Homo sapiens: one gene and its partners. The protein of the gene in region 1 purifies or fractionates together with the protein of each later gene. This does not show direct contact. Each region holds a gene or a part of one and is shown in the gene's direction. Other genes may lie near its edges. The genes, in order: TNIK, CTTNBP2NL and ACAT2.

The links.
Region 2: the proteins of TNIK (region 1) and CTTNBP2NL purify together in Homo sapiens (affinity purification with mass spectrometry; 2 studies listed by BioGRID and IntAct, with this or other methods). This does not show direct contact.
Region 3: the proteins of TNIK (region 1) and ACAT2 purify together in Homo sapiens (co-immunoprecipitation; one large-scale study listed by IntAct). This does not show direct contact.

Annotation. Positions count from the first base shown.
Region 1 is NC_000003.12:171,450,305-171,453,960, reverse strand, and holds part of TNIK (TRAF2 and NCK-interacting protein kinase), read left to right. Parts: intron 1-3,420; exon of another isoform or gene 3,421-3,656. UniProt on the Homo sapiens protein: Serine/threonine kinase that acts as an essential activator of the Wnt signaling pathway. Recruited to promoters of Wnt target genes and required to activate their expression. May act by phosphorylating TCF4/TCF7L2.
Region 2 is NC_000001.11:112,458,283-112,461,664, forward strand, and holds the end of CTTNBP2NL (CTTNBP2 N-terminal-like protein), read left to right. Parts: 3' UTR 1-2,882; downstream 2,883-3,382. UniProt on the Homo sapiens protein: Regulates lamellipodial actin dynamics in a CTTN-dependent manner. Associates with core striatin-interacting phosphatase and kinase (STRIPAK) complex to form CTTNBP2NL-STRIPAK complexes.
Region 3 is NC_000006.12:159,768,450-159,772,105, forward strand, and holds part of ACAT2 (acetyl-CoA acetyltransferase, cytosolic), read left to right. Parts: intron 1-61; coding exon 62-179; intron 180-3,656. UniProt on the Homo sapiens protein: Involved in the biosynthetic pathway of cholesterol.

The DNA of each region.
Region 1 (3,656 bases):
CTTAAGTAGAAAATGTTGGATGAATTCCGCTTGTGATTCCTTCCAGTCTGGTTGGAAGCTTATTTCCCTTTAGAGAAACATGATTCTATCCACTCTTTTTTACATGTCCTGGTTGTCTCATGGGGGTGCCCTCAGTTTCTCAAAACACATTTTATATCACCCCAACTTAAAATTCTTCCCTTAATGTTTATCATATGGGTCCCCTTGTCTCCACTGTTCCCTGCAAGTGCTGTAGTTACTGTCCCCTGGGCAACACCCGCAACAGGACCTCCCCTCCTCCTGTGTCTCTACCACCAGCCTTCTTCTGACTGGTTTCTCGTACACTGTAGCCACGTGAGTCTTCCAAACGCACAGTTTCAATCTGGTTGTTTTTATTCAAGGCCTTCTCTGTCTCCTTAGTCTACAGACTGAAAACTAAACTCTTTAGCATGTTAAGACCAGCGGCAATTCAGAGGGGCCTCCCACCGAGCTCTGCAGTTTTGACGACCACTCCCCCATTGCGGCAGGGAACAATTTCATTCCCCCATGGATGCTCTGTAGGGGGCGCTCTGTCTTAGTCTCCTTTCTGTACCTACTGCCCCAACGCTGAACATTCGCAGACCACCTTTTCCACAGAAGTCTCTGATTTCTCTCAAGTTGTCCCTCCCACTCATAGACTGTCTCAGAACTGACCTCACACCTCTTTCATAACACTCAGAACTTTCTGTCTTGGATTATATTCACTACTAGACAATTCCTTTTTAGAGGCAACGTTTGATTTTCTTAGGGATCCTCACCAGTTTTCTTTACACAGCAGGCGTTCGTTCAACAAATAAATTTTGAATTAACAAAATATATACTGTGCAACCCTTTTAGAAGGGCTGGAGGTGGTGCTATGTAGAGAGAGTATAGAAACCTCAGAAAGGTGGGGCCTGTTGCTGACCATGGCACAATTTCAGGGATCATGAATTACATTATAGTCTAGGTTGCATGACTCCTGGGGACACTTTTTATGTAGAGTACAATTCCAGTGGATGCTAATTACATAGAGTACAATTCCGGGGGCACCAATTACGAGAAATACTATGCCTGGTCCTGGGTAGGTATTCCTATTTCTAGAATTTTTCTGCCAAGGAAAGTGTTCTCTCCATTGTCTTATTCTAAGTTTTGAGAGATTTAAAATACCATGGGTTAGAATTGCAAGGCGTATGTGTGTGTGTGTGTGTGTGTGTGTGTGTGTGTGTGTGTGTGTTTGGAGTGTGTTTCAATTATTTCAACAATCGGATAATACTTATGACTGCTGTTTTGATTAAACAGTAATAGATGGGCGGGAAAGGGTGTGCTTCTGGGGTGGCCCACTGGAAGACAACGTTGAGTTTTTATCTTGACAGAGCTGGCAGTGAGCGGGTAGAGAGAGTTTGGGAGATGGTGAGGTTTAATGAGGCACACAGCTGGGAGTTAGAGCCCAGCGTCATAAAGCTGGCTCTGACACCTTGCCCTCTAAGCTTCAGTTTTGTCACATGTAAGATGAGTGGTTTGGACTAGAAATTGCTGGAGGTGACTTCCAGCAATTTGTATTGCTGGGATGCATATTCCTGGAATATGTAAGGGAACTAGAGGCAGGACTGAGGGCATTTAAATAGCCATGGATTCTTATTCTATCTGTTGGAGATACCAAGAGATTGCAAACTGTGCACCTCAATGAGCTGGGAATTGCCACTGAACGTAACATCCCTTTCTAATTTTTAAATGAGCTATTTTTTTCCAGCTGTCAGATTCTGATTTATAATTTAAAGTGTTGTTCTAGTTTTTGAAGACCGAGTGATAGGACGAAGGGCTGACTGTGACTTCCGCTGGGTACTCCCTTACAGTGTTGCTGCTGGATACCCGGATTTAGACTCTGAAGTAACCCTAGATTTTAAAGTGCTGTCTCTCTAGTTAGTGAAATTAGAACCTTGGCAGTATGCATCAAGTAGGAAATTTGTAGACTTTAACAATACATTGCATATGTTACAAACATTTGTTTGATTAGTGTATTAGAAGGTGCAAGTTTGGGTGCAGGGTAAATTCAGGCCCAGTATTCTGTGATTCTGTGAAATGTGATTAACTGTAGGGGAAGAAATGCACATGGTATCCAGCATTCATTCATTTATTTGTTTGTGTATATATTCATTCAGTACCTGATTATTGGGTGCTACTAGTTGCTGGGGCTGAGCTGAAGACAACATTGGCATGGTTTCTACACCCATGGTTGGATGGAGAAGAGAGCCTGCACTTGTCTTTTACTACACTCTAGCCACACTGATTTTTTTCTGTTTTGTGAATATGCCAAGCTCATTCTTGTAGTTCTCCGTGTCAGAAATTTCACATGGAGGGCTCCATCTTATTATTTAGGTCTAAGGTGAGATGCTGCCTGTATTATTACTTATGTATCTGCATAGCAGACTACCCTCAAGCTTAGTGGCCTAAACAACAATAACCATTTATTATATCTCACAGTTTCTGTGGGCCAGGAATTCAGAAGTGGCTTACCTGGGTGGTTTTAGCATGAGGTATCTCCTGAGGTTGCAGGAAGATTTTGGCAAGGTGAGCTATCTTCTGAAGGCTTGACTGGAGCTGGAGGATCTCTTTCCAAGATGATTTACTTATGTGGTGCTGGATGTTGGCAGGAGGCCTCAGTTCCTCCCCACGTAGGTGGCTCCATTGGTTGCTTGAGCATCCTCATAACATCGTGCCCACTTTTACCAGATAGAGGAATCAAGAAAGCAGAGCAGAAGCCACTATGTCTTTTATGACCTAGCCTTGGAAATCACACACCATCATTTCTGCAATACCCTGTTGGCTACCCAAGTCAGCCCTATTCATTTCGAAGGGGACTACACAAGAATATTAACTAACACCAGAAGGCAGAAGTCACTGAGGGCCCTCTTAGAGGCTCCCTACTAAACAGAGAGGCTTTCTTTGCAATATATCTGTAAAGTAACACTCCCTTCCACCCTGAAACTGTCCAATTCAGTGCTTTATTATCTTTAAGGCAGTCGTGACTATCTGAATTTTTTAAAAATCTGGCTGTCCCAACTGGAGCCTAATAAGTTTTGTGAGAATAGGGATCTTGCCTGCATGTTCAGCACCACATTCCTGGTGCTTTGAACTGTGTCTGGCACATGATAAATGTTGATTGAATAAATATCAATTGTGTGAATGCAATTAATTCATTCATTTAAAAGGGATCTTATTTATTTATTACACCTCATACCTCCAAAAAGTAAGTTGTGGCACCTTCTGATAAAAGGCATAAATAGGATAAAGCCATAAAACCATGTTAAGGCTAAAATGAAAAGTAAAGGGGGATTGTGTTTGCATATCTTTGTCTATATATCTACTTATCTATCTGTCTGCCTAGGGCTTGGTGATTGGTGATCCAATTTACCTCTTTTGTAGGTAGAAATTTGGGGTCAGAGAAGTTACTTGTCTTGTCCAAGGATGAAATTCGAATGCAGTGCTGGGTCCCGTTATACCACGTCCCTCAACTGGATTGCCAACATCCTGGACATCTTAGTGAATCAGTCATTCCCACAACACAAAAACCAGTCTAACAAAGTATGGATACAAAGATGGTTATAAAGTTGCTTGTATGTACGGAACACACTGAAGATAGCCTGTGCTCCACTGTGAAG
Region 2 (3,382 bases), on another chromosome or scaffold:
ATCAAAAAGCAATAACTTGAAATTCACTCTGTAATATTATAGGTCAGTCAGAATTATACAAGTTTTACCAAATTGTTACACTTATTCTCCAAGCTGCCAGAACCTGGTATCTGTATCTGTAAAACCAAATTAACTTTTGCTTAAATGGGAAGTATACATATATCTGTATAGATACATTACCCCTTTACATGTTTAACATACACACACTTAAACACATAAATACTAGTGTGATTATATCTTTGGAGTTTGCAATATAGCATAAAGGACAAGTAGAACTGCACATTAAGATTACCTACCGAAGCAACTAGATGTGGCTGGGACACAATCAAAGGAGGAATTTTGTCCACAGGAAGGTGAGGAAATTCCAAATGAAGCCTAGATCTTCAGTATCATAAAAAGGCAGAGCTGGCCAGGCACAGTGGCTCATGCCTGTAATCTTATCACTTTGGGAGGCTGAGATGGGAGGATCTCTTGAGACCAGGTGTTCAAGACCAGCCTCATCAACATAGTGAGACCCCATCTCTATTAAAAAAATAAATAGGCAGAGCTAAACTAACCCCAGTGTCACAAAACTCAACTGGTCATATAAATGAGTGAAACAGGCCTCTCACACAAGCGATGTAAAACAGCTGGGAGCAGTGGGAGCTGTGGCAAACTAAAGTGCCCAAGCCGCATTTAAAAAGGGCATCTGTTCAGCTCCATCTGCTTGCTGCGGTGCAAGAATGCTAAACCAGGATTACCAGTTCTTCACATTTTTTGAAATCCAAATTTTCATGAGAAACATTCTCATTTTTAAATATCAAGAAGTGATTTTAAAATGTTTAAATGGTGCTGGTTAAACAAACACGTCTGCAGCTGGATTTAGCTTGCAAGCTGCCAAGTTGCAACCTCTTTCATTCTAGAAACTTCTGTCATTTTCATCATAGCAAGTCTATGCGGACAAAAGCCTCCAAACTTTCCAACTGTGTAGGCCAGTACAGCTGGCAAGGTTCATAGAATATAATGGCTATCCCCCTCTGCCAAATAAGACTATCCACAACCCAGCTCAGACACAGTGGTTATATGATTTTGTGTCCATACAGGAGAGGCCTTGGTGTCTTCACATACATTCTCTGAGCCAACATCTATCCAGCAGCCCTGACCTCCTGCTATAATTTAAGTCTATTTCCTTTTAATCTAATAAGAGTTGATAGTAAAAAGGCAGGTGATGGAAATCAGTGTATAAATCACAATGGAGTATATTGGCAACTCCACAGCTTATAGTTTGATAAAGGCAAATACATGAAAAATAAAAATGCTACTAATGCCCCAAGGTGTCTATCAAAATGATGTAGGGGGTATCTTAAACTGTCCAAGGCAATCATGCATTGAACTTTATTCCTATGCAGAGCCAAAACGAATAGTGTTGATAAAATAGCTAAACTTTCTAAACTGGAGAGGAGGCTACAGTGCCAGAGAGTTATTGTCTCTTTTGCTTTAAATGGTAATCTTAAAAGTTGCATTGTGCTCTTCCTTTGTTTTGGGATAGATATATATAGAGAGAGATACTATAAGGAAGTTTATTTCTTAGGAAGTGCACTGAATAATGTATTTCTTTTACAGTGTAATATGGGGGTGGGGATATGCGAAAGAAATGTGTATTTTTGCTAGTTGCCTACCTTCTGAGATAAATAAGCACAATCTTGCAATGGATCCAATAACCCAGTTAGGTATTATAGATTAGTATTTAAGTTTGCTGTAGATTGTGTGTGTGTGTGCTAAGTAAAAGTTCCATGATTCACAATTTTAGTATTAACCCATGTTGCAAAAGCTGTTACTGGCCAACAGATTGTAATGATGTGTACCATATAACACAAGCATTAACTAGGCATTAACGTTTGTAAAGCCAAATATACCATGCAGAAGTCTTCATTTTTATAGCAGACTGCATTAAAACAAGTTAAATCTTGCTGTTTGGGGGGAAATAGTCTTGTTTGTACAAAGTGAAAAATGGCACAATTTGGGCATATTTTGTTGGGAAGAGGGGGTGGTGTAGAGGGAGCACTTGACTGTGGCTTTGACAAAACAAATGAAGTCAATGACCCATCCAGGTTAGACTCCATAAGGAACTAAGACATTGATTTTCTTTAGAGTCTTAGAGCTGGAAAAAGCCTTTACAATAATCCAGTCTGTGATTTTTTAAACCTTTTGGTGGTTCTGGACCTTTTTGAGAATCTTAGAAAAGCCATGGAGTTTATCCCTAGAAAAATGAATATGCCTATATGCAAAATTTGTTTGATGGCTTCATAGGATCCAAAGACCCTGAAGCCATCCATGGCTCATGTATTTCTGCTTAAGAAAGCATAATCTTGTTCTGCTCTCTCATTTTACAAATGATTAATGCATCCCTTTTCAACTACTCCAGCGCTGTTGCTGCTGCAATGTTAGCAAATGCAAGCCAGAGAGAAGCACTTGAAAATCCTTTGATGTCTAAAAAATGTTCAAATAGTGTGGATGTTTACATATCTGAAGTTTTCAGCATTTAAGCAAATTAATGATCATTTCAACAAATACTAGCATATCCGGTTTCCCTTAATAGCCTGTCAGCAGTGCTGCCTTGTCAATTTGTGTGTGTGTGTGTGTATGTGTGTGTGTGTGTGAATTCATAAGGAGTGCTTCTGATGCTTAGTCCTTGAAATGGAACTTCAACTGTCTTTCAAAACACTGGCTTCAAAATAGGATGTGTTTTCCTAATGAATCAGAAGTGGGCAATGAGCATTGTTCCACAGGAATAATTTTTAATTTAATTTCTATAAAACTAGTTGAGAAATGAGAGCCTGTCCACCCACCATTTGTGTATCAGTGGCCAATTCATTAGTAAAAATAAAGGAGGGGAAAGGAGACTGGAGTAGTGGTTCTCAAACTTTACTGTGCGTAAGTATAACCTGGGAAGCCTGCTAAAATAAAGATTTCTGGAGATTAGATCCTCAGACTAGCTGATGCAGCTAGTCTGTTTTGAGAAACAGTCCTTCATAGCCCTTACCTGTTCTTTCACAACAACTTGCTATTTGCCTCTGACCTAAGGAAATGTCTTAAGCTCCTGAAACTGGTTTGGCAGAATGTCAGTGATATTCAGAGTCAAGAGTGCCTACTTGAGTACCAAGCACCATGCTAATGATTTCACATACATATTACCTTATTAATCCTCACACGGGTGCTGTGAGGTATTATTATCCCCAGTGTAGTGATGAGGTAGTTGAGGGCCAGAGATCTGTGCAAGGGCCCTTAGCATATGACAGCCAGGATTTAAACCTTAGTGCTTTGTTCTTTCACTACCAGTATTTCCCAAATGAGAGTCTCTGGGGAGGAGCAGATTCCCAGGCTCCTCCCCTGGCGATTCTGA
Region 3 (3,656 bases), on another chromosome or scaffold:
TATTCTGGGGAGAAGACTAATTGCAACTAAGCCTAAATCCATTTTTATTTCTGACTTCTAGGCTCCTCACTTGGCTTACTTGAGAACAGGAGTAAAGATAGGTGAGATGCCACTGACTGACAGTATACTCTGTGATGGTCTTACAGATGCATTTCACAACTGTCATATGGGTATTACAGGTAAGGCAGACATGGCTGAAACTGTATTAGCTTTAAAAAGGTTAAAAAGACCATATACTAATCTGCTTCTTAGGTGCTTTCGTCCTTATGGCCAGAGACTGTCTTAAGGATTTTTATATCTCTTCTTTGATTAACTGAAGTGAAGTAAGTATTCTCTTCTTTGTGAACTCTTGATTATCAGAGAATGTTAGAAGTGGGAAGTACCTCAGAGTTCTTCTGGATCAACCCCTCATTTTACCAAATGAAGAAACAGGGCCCACAAATAGTGCTTCTGTGGCAGAGGTAGTGACAGAGATAAACCAGTTGTTTTTTTGGTACCTAGCTGTACTTTTTGTACTACACAATTGGGTTATTGGTCATTCATGCTGAAGGGTCCTGTGGTCTAAGTTTAATGGCAAAGCAACTGGGAAATCAAAAGCACTCTTGTCTTTAGTATACATGTAAAACTTAAGAAACAGAATAGACATTTTAGAGTTAAAGAATCAAACCCTGAGAAGTTAAGCACCTTGCTCAAATGCATGCAGCAATGGCTCTGGTTTTATGTAACACATAAATATGTGAAAAAGGTAATGGGGAAAAGTACAAGATTCCAAGAGGGAACTGTGTGCATGAATGCTAGGAAGGAAGGAAGGGCTTAGGGATATGGGAAGCAATGAGAAGCTCAAGGCATCTTGACCACTTCTCGACTTACAGCCACAACAGAGAAGGCTATAAAAACACAGGCAGACAATGGAAGACACTGTGTGACCAACTGCCTCAACCATAACTAGAGGTGGTCATTAAAAATTCAGATCCCGAGCCCTTTCCAAGGTGTACTGTGGATTGAATGGTACTCTTCCAGCCTCCAGAACTGTAAGAAAATAAATTGCTCTTCTTTAGAAAAAAAGAAAAGAAAAAAGGCTCAGGTCATGATGGAGTAATTGACAAAGATTAGATTTCCTACTATAAACAAGCATAAAACTTGTGAAAATATATAAAGCCACTGTTTTATGTATGTCAGGTTTTGACTAATACTCATGTAAGACTGAGATCCTTGAGAGAAGGGAAAACCCCACTGTCACTGTCTCTACCCAGGGCACTTCCCAAACTGTGTTATGGAGAGGCAGAGCCTAAGCTGGAAACAGTGGTCTCAGTGATCTGAAGAAGCAGAGAATTTGGGGCTTCTGAGATGGCTGGAGTTTGTGGGGCAGAATAAGGGGGAGAAGAAAAAAAGAGCTCCAGAAATCTGCAAAAGGTTCCCCTTAAGTCTTTGATCAAATACTAAGCTTGTAGATAACAGCTTACAAGGCCTAGTAGAAAAGAGCTGCAAAGGAGAGGTGAACTGGAGATTTTATAGATTACTAGGAGATAAAAGTTCTGGACAAGCGAGTGGAAACCTTACTGAACTCCTTGGACACTCCATTGACATCTCAGAAAGACCACAGTTTAGGGGTAGGGCCAAAGCCATAGAGTAAAAGCTACTCTAGACCCAAACTAATAAGCTTAAAAACAAGCCTCAAAAGGATCAAGGTGATTTGCCAGTATTTTGACTGCTTGTGGAAACAAAACTCAATATATTCTCTAAAGATAATAAAATCTCTATGTCCAGTTATGTAGCAACTATAATGTTCAGCATGCAATGAGAACTTTCTAGATACACAAAGAATTAGGAAAATATAGCTTACAACCAGGGTGGAAAAAAACCACAACAGTCAACAGACCCTGCAATACTAGAATTATCAGATGAGGATCTTAAAGGCTCTATTTTACATATGTTTAAAGATACAAAGGAAAATATAATCTTCATAGAGGAATAGATGTGGACATCTCAGGAGTAAAAGGAAAAAATATAAACAAGAACCAAATAGAAATTCTAGAACTTGCAAAGTACACAATCTGAAATTAAGAATTCACTGGGATGGGGCCGGGCATGGTGGCTCGCACCTGTAATCCCAGCACCTTGGGAGGCTGAGGTGGGAGGATCACTTGAGGCTGGGGGTTTGAGACTAGGCTGAGCAACATAGTTAGACCTCATCTCTAAAAAAAAAGAAAAAAAAATTCTGAATGGCCTTAACAGCATCTTGGAGACAGAAGAAAAAGGGTCAGGAAGTTTGAAGATAGATCATATACACGACCTGAAGAACACAGAGAAAAATAATGAAGAATAAATGAACAGGCCAGGCACGGTAGCTCACGCTTGTAATCCCAGCACTTTGGGAGGCCAAGCCGGGTAGATCATCTGAGGTCAGGAGTTCAAGACCAGCCTGGCCAACATGGGGAAACCCTGTCTCTACTAAAAATACAAAAATGAGCTGGATGTGGTGGCCCATGCCTGTAATCCCAACTACTTGGGAGGCTGAGGCAGAAGAATAGCTTGAACCCAGGAGGTGGAGGTTGCAGCAAGCTGAGATCACACCATTGCGCTCCAGCCTGGGTAACAAACAAAACTCTGTCTCAAAAAATTAAATTAAATTAAATTAAATTAAAAAATAGGCCAGGTGTGGTGGCTCATGCCTGTAATCCCAGCACTTTGGGAGGTCAATGCAGGCAGATCACCTGAGGTCGGGAGTTTGAGACCCACATGACCAACATGGAGAAACTCCATCTCTACTAAAAATACAAAATTAGCCAGGCTGGTGGCGCATGCCTGTAATCCCAGCTACTCGGGAGGCTGAGGCAGGAGAATCGCTTGAACCTGGGAGGCGGAGGTTGCGTTGAGCTGAGATCACGCCATTGCACTCCAGCCTGAGCAACAAGAATGAAACTCCGTCTCAAAAAAATAAAATATAAATGAACAGAGCCTTGGTGGTCTGCAGGACAAAATAAATAGGACTAGCATGCATGGAATAGGAATCTCATACATAAGGAAGAGAGAGAATGGGGCAGAAAAAAACTGAAGAAAATTTCCACATTTGGTGTGAAAAGAAGTTCAAAGACCAAGATAGACAAGGGAAAAATTACACCTTAGCAAATTGTAGCAAAAAGTTAAAAAAAGATCATGCCACTGCACTCCAGTCTGGGCAACAGAGTGAGACTCTGTCTCAAAAAAAAAAAAAACAAGAGTGAAAGTGAAGAGCCATTTTTAGATGAAGGAAAATGAATTGCCTGCACACCTACACTACAAGAAATACTAAAGGAGCCAGGCATGGTGGTATGTGCCTGTAGTCCCACCTACTCAAGAGCTGAGGCAAGAGATTGCTTGAGTCCAAGAGTTTGAGTCTAGCCTGGGCAATGCTATCATAGTCTACTATGATTGCACCTGTGAGTATCTACTGCATTCCAGTCTGGTTAACATAGTGACACAACAACAACAACAACAACAAAAGAATAGCTTCCAGCCGGGCGCGGTGGCTCACGCCTGTAATCCTAGCACTTTGGGAGGCCGAGGCGGGCGGATCATGAGGTCAGGAGATTGAGACCATCCTGGCTAACACGGTGAAACCCCATCTCTACTAAAACTACAAAAAATTAGCCAGGTGTTGCAGCAGGTGCCTGTAG